2 separate regions of the Homo sapiens genome follow, and region 2 is linked to region 1. Evidence: fine-mapped expression QTL. A gene starts in region 1. The other region holds a variant in brackets. All regions are shown on one strand. Distances are from middle to middle.

Region 1 (4,380 bases):
TATGCACACCTTTCCTGAGAGCCACTGCAGTCACCGAGGAGTGTGGGAAGGAGGAGTAGGTAGGTTTCAAAGGAGCCAGCAGCCTTCTCCAAAGCCCTGTTCAAAAATCTCCTGGTGTAGTCACCTCTGCGAGCAGTACAAAGGCCCTGCATGTGACCAAAATCTACACACACACAGCCCATTACGGGGACTCTCATGGCCTCACGCTATTAAGGTGGCCCCTTAATACTAGGAATTCACACAGAAACACATTCTGCAGGAGAGTCACAGAAAACAAAGTATAAAGGTCTGTAAATACACACACTCAAACACACCCAAACACACACACACACATTCTACTAGCTTACTGGGTCTAGAAAAGAAAAGGATCAAGTTTCCTCAAGAATTCACAAGTGAGACAGAACAGGGGAAGAGAAATGCTATTTTTTTATTACTTGTCATGGTCAATATCTTTAACCTTGGGCCCCCCTCTCCAAGCTCCTGACTTCTTGGCATTATCCACCGGGTTCTCCATCCAAGACACACCTGCCCCTTTTCGGGTGCTGAATGTTACATACCCCAAGCCCCATACCCAAAGCCCTCAGGTCCCATTGTCTGCCTGTGTTGGGGATGGCTGGGTGTGGAGGGAGGCGGGTGAGTAGGGGACCAACGCGTGGCACCTGCAGGGGAAGAATTCTCAAGGCTCTGGGGCAAACAATGGAGAAGAAGGGGCAGACCAGAAACTTCGCCTCCATCCCACCCTGCTGCCCTTCGTCAGGAGCAAGCTCTGGGAGCGGGAATCTGCGCAGCTGGCTCAGAACGCGGCCGTAGCCCCATGTGCCCAAAAGGAGACATTGTGCTTGGCGAGTGTGGGAAGTGTCCCTCCTGGGTGCAAGGAAGGCTTTCTGACACCAGTTCGCAGGCACCCTGGAGGAATAAAGCGCTGGCGCAGTGAGGAGGGCCTGAGGGTGCGGAGTGCAGGGTGCAGGGTGCAGGTGTGAGGACGGAAGCTGACAACCCCGCCGAGGGCCCTTTGAATCCCAGGGATGGGGAAACCACGGCGCTCCTGGCTCCTGGCTCGGGAAAGACCCCGGCAGGCACTGACCCGTCTGTGGGCTGCGGAGCCCGGACGGGCCCCAATGGTCCTGCCCCCACCCCCAAGTCCGGAATTGCGTCTGGGTGGGAGGGCAACCTCGGAGCCAGGGAGCCAGGGGCGGGGACCATACTCACAGGCGCTCGGTGTTCCGAGGTATATTCTTGGGAATGGCCTGCAGCCCCGTGCCGTGGCAGTCCACCGTGGTTCCGGTGCAGGTGCAGAGGGCGGGGCACGCCGAGGCACCCAGGCGCCACGCGGCTGCCCACAGCAGCAGCCAGAGCTCCGGCCGGACCGGCCCCGCCGAGGACCCCCACCCGGGAGTCAGCGCCATGGTGCCCTCACAGCGTCCCGCTCGCGAGCCAGACGGCAGCAGCCGCTGACCATCCCCGTCCGGGGCCGCCTCCAGGTGCAGTCCCGGGGCAGAGCCACCGAAGAGCCCGCGGGCTTGCGCGCGGCGCCCCTGCGGGCTGGGAGGCACCTTGCTCCTCCAAGCGACGGCGCCTGTGCGCGGACGGAGGGAGGGCGCCTTGGGCGGAGGGGGCTCGGCTCCTCTGCCGTTTCGCCGCCTGCGTCTCCCTCTCCCTCCCTCCAGCTCCCAACTGACTGCTGCGAGGAGGAAAATGGGCAGGCCCCGCGCGCGCACGCACCCTGCGCACACACCACACACACACACACGATCACACACACACCCGCGCGCTCGCTCCCACCCGGCAGTCATCCATCAATCGAAAAGCACACATCCAGGGCCAGGCTCCTCCCCGCCCTCCCCCGCCGCAGCCCCCCTCTCCCGACGACCACTCAGCGGCTGCAAGCCGCCTACAGTTTCAAAGGTGGAACCTCCGAGGCGCCGTCAGCGGGCACGGGGCTGCGGGGGATGGGAGAAGAGGGAAGGGGGTGTGACTCGACCCGCCAAGTCCTGGCTGTACACACACACACACACACACACACACACACACACACACACACACGGCGAGGATGCGCACATTTAGACGCACGCACCCCGGCACCCGCGGCCCCAGCTGCTAGTCCAGGGTGGGAGGGAGATCTTATTTTGCCGCTTGGACGCCTTCCCGGGGAGTCAGACCCGTTTCCCCCCATCCCCCGACGGCAGCAGCGGCCTCTCGGCCCCACCCGACTCGCTGTGTCAATTCTTGGTTAAGGGAAACCCTGTGCCTGTGCCCCAGGTAGCATCCTCAAGCCACCAACCTTACTTAGCCTGGACTTTGAGGATGGAGCTTTGTCGGGGGGGAGGGTCCACGAAAGCGCTAGGCGGAGTACAGTCTCCTTCCTACCTCAATGCACCCACTTCTCAGAGGGGAACAAGCTAGCCGCATGCCCAGGATGAGAATGGCTCTGATTGGAACACTTGCTCAGCAGGGCGTATTTGTACCATACAGTTACACGGGCTTCTTCCCCCGTTGTAGAAGAGAGGGACAGACATTAAGGGGACTTGGAAATCTGGCAAACGTCTTCCTCCACTCACACCAGCGTTCCTCCATTTCTGACAGGTGGAAACAGATGAAAATGAATATTCCATCTTGACATCAAAGGAGACAGAGAGGGCTGGCATAGCGCTGGGCGGCCTGCTTGGGAGAGAACCCCACAGGCCAGCCCCGTCAGACCCAGGCCTCACACCCGGCTGGGTAGGGACCTTCGTCACCGTAAGGCATGTGTGGACGTGGGTGTGAACGGGACATCCAGGTGGGGAGAGAATTCTCCTCAACCCCAGAAAAGACGAAAGATCTCCTCAACGCCAAGGACAGCTGTGGCTCGCTGGGGCAGTGTCCAGCAGTCGGGGCCTTGACGTGAGGCTGCTTGGCAAGAGGACACAGCTGGGTAGCCCGAGAAGCACCTCCCGTCTCAGGAGCGGCCTGGGTCCAGACACAGCATGGACGCATTTGGTGGGGAGAGTGTCGGGCAGGGTGGGGATAGGGGAGGTTGATAGACTCCACAAGGTTGAAGCCTTATCACCCACCAGGTACCCAAGGCTCAGGCGTTTTCTTTGCTTTTCTTTTCCATGTTGATGAGAATTTTGCAGTCTCTCTACTGTCATAGCACAGTATGTTACAATTTAGGTGGCTGATTTTATGGGCTTTTGACAGTTCTTTTAAAGTTTTCACACATCCCTGTCCATGACCTCCATCCGGTAAGTGGGTTCTTGAGCATAAGTTCAGTTTCTCAGGGGGCAGGGCTTTCTCAGGGGTGCCTGTGTGGTGGGATATTAGGGAAGCTTCCCACAAACCAGGCCGGAGTCTGAGAGGGCTGCCCCTGCCCTGCAGCTCACCAGCTCCTGCTCCATGGGGCCCCAGCCCCTCTATCCATGCTCTCCCCGCAGCCTCAGAGTGACATTCCTCCATGCCCGCTGCTTTGTTTATCCCCTCTTAGTACCTGCAGCTGCTTCTCCACACCCCTGCCCACCCCCTGGCATCCTCACTCGCTCACCCAGACACACACCCCAGCACCTGGCACTTAGTAGGCCTGTCACAGACAGCACTCAGGCTGTTGAAGATGTCTCCAGCCTTCTGCTCCAGCAGTAGCTCCCTGGTCCCAGGACCTCGGAGGGCCCCTTGGAAGCCAAGACCCATGTGGAGAAGGGAGAGAGTGTTGATTAGCCAGGCGACATGCCCCTAGGTCCTCAGAGTGACAGAGTGAAGGGGTATGAGGAAGGGTGGGAGTGAGCAGGGGTGCAAGATCAGCCCTGCCTATGGCTCCTGAGAACCAGCCCCTGCCCTAGAAGCTTCCAGACCAGCCTGGACAGTGAATCCCAAGCAGGCCCTGGGCTGAGTTGCTGCTGCCTGGCAAAGCCTGGCTTTTCCTCTGAAGGGAGGGAAGGAAGGAGCCCCCCAGACCCAGGACAAAGACTCCCCCAGCAGCCCATCACAGGGGGCCCTGCCCAAGCAGCGGGCAGCTCCCCAGCTTGGCTCCTGTCCCTGGTTCCTCCACCCCAGAACCTGGCCAGCTCCCCAATTCAGGAGGCGGCTCGCCATGAATGAGCGCAGCTCATTAGCGTGCCCGGCACATTTACTTGTTAAACAACTGCCTGGCTGGCCGCACACCCCCAAGCCCCACTCTGTTTTTTCAATTTCCTCTCCCATGCCCCTCCCTCTCTTGGGTCTCCCTACCCCCTCCCTGCAGCCGGGCCACCTGCTCCCGCTGCACGGGTGGGGAGGAGGCAGGCCTGGCACATTGCTTCTGCCAGGAATACTCCACCAAGCCTGTCCCTGCTCACCTGCCACCAGCAGGGCAACCCCCTGGAAGGGAAATTTGAGGTTGAGTCTCCCCAGCCCAGTGACGTGAGTCCCCTC
Region 2 (4,342 bases), 37 kb after region 1:
CCACTACACTCTAGCCTGGGTGACAGAGTAAGATGCTGTCTCGAAAAAAAAAAAAAAATAGCTGCTATAGACTAAATGTTTGTATTCCCACAAATTAACTTTGAAACCTAATCTCCAATGTGATGATATTAGGAGGTAGGGTCTTTGGTAGGAGGGGTCTTTGGGAGTGTCTTTGGCAGGGCCCCCATGAATAGGATTAGTGCTCCTCTAAAAGAGGCCCCAGAGAGATCCCTTGTCCCTTCCACCATGTGAGGTTACAGTGAAGACGGCTGTCTGTGAACCAGGGAGTGCACCCTCAGCAGACACCCAATCTGCTGGCACCATGCTCTTGGACTCCCCAGACTGCAGAACTGTAAGAAGCACATTTTTGATGTTGAGAAGCCACCTAGTCTATGGTGTTCTGTTAAAGCAGCCCAAGCCCACCAAGACAGCAGCAGGAACATTTCAACATGAGCTGTCTAAACACACCTTCCTGCCTCAGATGAAAACTTCATCTAGGTTTTCCTGTTATTGTAACCATCACTCCTTGTTTTTAAATGAAGAAATAAAAATTATGTGAGAAACTGAAATCTATGTGAAGCATTCTAGACTCAGCCATGGGAAATTAGGAAGCTCAGGATCCCAGAGGCTCCAAATCATACTTCTTATCAGCCAAAAGCCCCGCTCCTCCTGAACCCACCCACCCACCTAAAAACAAGCCAAAGAGGAGCCTTTCTAGAGGCTTCACTTTCCTCAGAACAAGAGAAAAACTCTCTCTTCAACATCAACAGTCAAAATGTGAATAGACCAGTCAAATCCTCTGGATATGAAACAAAACAATTTTAATTTCAGAATATTACAAGAATATAAAAGAAAGACAATGCATAGGATCGTTTCTTTACAATTACATATACATAGTCAAATAAGAATGAAAACTTTAACCAAAACACTTAAGAAACCTTGTTTCTCTTGTTGAGCAAGCTCAGGGATAGGACAAAGGCAACCCTTGCTCTGCAGAAAGAACCCTGGGGTGAGGGAATATTTCCCCCAACAGGTTCTATCTGTCCCCAGACATGGCCAGGGGAGGGCTCCATGGCTCTTTAGCACAGGCTGTGGCCTCACACACTCCAGTCTCCATGGTAACCCAAGCACTCAGGCTATTATGTCCCACACCTCCTCGCTGGCCTGCTTCTGTCAACTCTACGCTGGTAGAAGATCTCGGCATTAGCTGTCTGGGGAAGCTAACTTCCTACAGTGGGTTTTAGTTGAGTTAATCACCACTGGTGTAAAACGCTTGTGCATCTTAGGAACCCAAATCTTCCCCAAATTCTAGACAATCCCACAAAATGCTAGTATCTAGGTTTAGATCTAGGTCCTGTCTTCCGTTTGAAGCCTTCAGGGTAAAGGAGGGCAGAGATAAGGCTCTCTCCTGGGGAAAGGAGTTCTACACAAAAATGACCTCAGAATGGGGGCCATTAGCCTCAAGCATCTGTGTGAGGCCTTGTAGGAAAGGAGACAGAGTCTAGAGACATCTATTCCTAAAAATCACCTGGTTGCATGGCCAGTCACTGTGGGGCACGTTCCCAGTGACCACAGGTTCTCCTAGACGGCAGTATTTTCAACTGCATGCTAACACAGGCTGCTGTGAGGGAAACTGAACAGAAACGTTCCTACTCAGGAGGAGAGAATGGCTCTGTTCTGACACTCTAGGATCGACTGCTTCCTTACAGGTCAACAGAACAGATACCTCCGGAGCACCCAGGTGTCACTGCAGTCAACAGCCCTCCACTAGCCCATTTCCCAAGGGTGTTCCCTTGTCCTTCCTGAATGACTCTGGAAGGACATTCTGGGTAAAGAGCTTTCCTTTGCGGAGGATCAACTGTAGTTTTGGTTACGATTCATTACCTGCTCCTTTTTTTACGGTTCGTTACCTGCTCCTGTTTTGGCCCTCAGGTACAGTCAGTATCTCCTGATGCTCTTTCACTACTACAGCAGGGTTTTTCACACCAGATTCATTGGTCCCAATGCAAAAGTCTATCATTGTAAAAGGTGAGAAATTCCAACGCCTATGGTTCTCACTAATTTAGTCAGTGGGGTTCACACAGTACAGTCTGGACCAGGAAGGTGGCCTGCAGTTTAATATGTGTATCCCTCTGGCACAAACACAAGGCCCCAAATTGACACCACATCAAAGCCCATCACAGGTGACCCCAGAAAGAAATGAAGTTGTAAAAGCCACAAGAAGAGGCACTTCCAGAGAGATTGTTCCAACATGAAAAACAAACACAATGAAATAGATTCAAAAAAAATCTTATAGATTAAAAAACTCTGTTAAATACTGGCTCAAAAACAATACCTGCCCACCAAATCAGAAGGGAGACAGCAGCCTTCTGTGGCAAATGATAAAAGGGGTTTTCTCTGTGTTTTCCGTAAGATTCCACTGGATTAGAATAGTTACATATTACAAGGTAGAAGGTTATGCTGCTTACTCCTCAAATTTGGATTCTAAGTCGATCACAGCTTCTATTAAGAAAAATGACCTATAAAACCCCTAAAGCAAGGGAAAACATATTCAATAAATAAACAAAACACACATAAACCACCCAAGGAGACCAGCTATATAAAGGCATGTGCATGTGATAAATATCTCTCTCATGATCCTCACCCCAGAACACAACCTTTGCTTATGATTCCATTCACCCAAAGAGCATCTACATCCGTCTAAATCTCAGCTACTTCCCTTAAATAGAATCAAAAACTAACACGATGACAGGAGCTATCAGGTCACCACTCTGCTCCCTCTACCTGATGCCAGCCCTGTTTAACAGACCATAGCACCACTTC[G/A]GGATGAAGCACGTCTAAACAAATAAAGGAAAGAAGGAAGAGTTAAGGAAGAATACCATTTCAATTTGGTGATACCCAAAGGGTTTTCTGTTTGAATTAACTGATATCTGGTGTAAGGGATTTCATTTTCTTAATAAGAAAAAAAAAGTCAAATATTTAATAGAAACCTACGCAAACGAATTTGCTAATATGTGTTTTTACAAATGACATAAAACTGCTCTAGAGAAAGGGGCTTCTAAGCAGTTTTGTTTTCCTAACCATCTATTGTTCACACTGCATTAAGCTGGAAGACCAAATTTTACATTTTTCTCCACTATTGCTGTTACAGCAGCAAAAGCAGCAGAAAGGCTGGCAGAGGGGGCTGCCAGCTGGGCACAAGGCCAAGCTCTGCTCCCCCAGAGTCATCTTTCATTTCAGCAATGGTGCAGCATATTCAACAGTTTAGAAATAGGTCAGCAAACCACATTTTGTGGGGCAACTGCTTCCCCATAGTGGCCTGACTCGGCTCCAACCCACAGGGTGAGAAGGGTTGTACAGCTCCACAGAGCCAGGCACAAACCTGAGCATTCCCCCCTGCTACATGCTGCTCTCTGGGCAGACACCAGTTCATACTAGGTCAAAGCCATGCCACTGCTCTATCCAACACAAGTGAACACACCAAATCCAAAAGCCAGAAGCTCTGGCCCCATCTCCAAATTACCACCTGTGTCCCTTCTGACAAAGAGAGGGCGGAACAGTAACACTCCTTGAACATTGGTGACAAGCCACAGCTGCTTCCAAATAAGAACATTCTCTCCTTTAAATCCTGTCAGCCCTGCAGAGGTTGCTGCTTGCTTCTTCTTTCTGATCCTAACTTCCTCTCAGGAGACGGTCTAGCCTGCACCCTCAGAGGGTGCAATGTAATCCCACCCATAAAGAGTCATCCTGGGACATAAAGGCAGCCAGCCCCCTCCTAGGCACACTCCAGAGCTTCCCCCACATACAAATATTTTAGCAAACTTCTCTTATGCTGTCAGTGACTTTCCTTGAGTCACAGTGATTTGGTTCAGAAGTATTACGTTGGCACCAGAGATGTTTTAGTCAAGAGGAAATTGAATGAAGATAACAAGTTCAGCAAAACACAATTATTTTCACATCACTGAGGAAAGGGAAAGAGAGAGAGAGATGGACAAGGGAGGGAGAAATGGAAGGAAGGAAAAGAGTTTAATAATTAAGATTTGTTAAAATACTGTATCATTCTGAATTCTCCTTTTTCAATACTGCAGGTCAAATACTCTGATGTCACACCCAAGAAATAATAAAAAATGTCCAGAAAAGCTATAAATTCTTTGGACACAAATTAGGTATTGAGGAATACAGCCTCATAAGATAAAGAGTTTTCCCAAAGCTCAAAGTGAAAAAGAGGGAAAGATATCTAGCTTAGAGCCCAACCAAAAACATGGCTTTTAAAACAAAGAAATAAACAAACAAAAACAACCAAATACCCAATACTATCAAAACAGAGAAAAACCCAAAATAT

Direction of the effects. Alleles are on the strand shown, and positions count from the first base shown. SD is a standard deviation of normalised expression in the study named.
In carriers of allele A in region 2, the expression in whole blood of the gene that starts at base 1,691 in region 1 tends to be lower than with G alone (moderate effect, 0.48 SD a copy in GTEx).

Evidence for each region. PIP is the estimated chance that this variant, and not a neighbour inherited with it, causes the effect. A credible set is the group of variants that fine-mapping cannot tell apart.
Region 2: its variant is the best candidate, but not a certain one, in a credible set for the expression of SLIT1 in whole blood (GTEx, PIP 0.51).

Annotation. Positions count from the first base shown.
Region 1 is chr10:97,184,269-97,188,648 of GRCh38, forward strand. It overlaps SLIT1 (slit guidance ligand 1), which reads right to left and starts at 1,691. Exons shown (of 37, transcript NM_003061.3): 1 at 1,210-1,691. The coding sequence starts at 1,406. All of the region lies in intron 11 of ARHGAP19-SLIT1 (ARHGAP19-SLIT1 readthrough (NMD candidate)), which reads right to left. RefSeq lists enhancers at 1,535-2,035, 2,036-2,536.
Region 2 is chr10:97,221,375-97,225,716 of GRCh38, forward strand. It overlaps ARHGAP19 (Rho GTPase activating protein 19), which reads right to left. Exons shown (of 12, transcript NM_032900.6): 12 at 805-4,342. The region is part of intron 11 of ARHGAP19-SLIT1 (ARHGAP19-SLIT1 readthrough (NMD candidate)); the gene reads right to left. All of the region lies in intron 2 of LOC105378447 (a long non-coding RNA gene), which reads left to right. Among named protein-coding and RNA genes, the nearest start is that of SLIT1, 38 kb to the left of the region's middle. The variant G/A (reference allele first, on the strand shown) is at 2,824.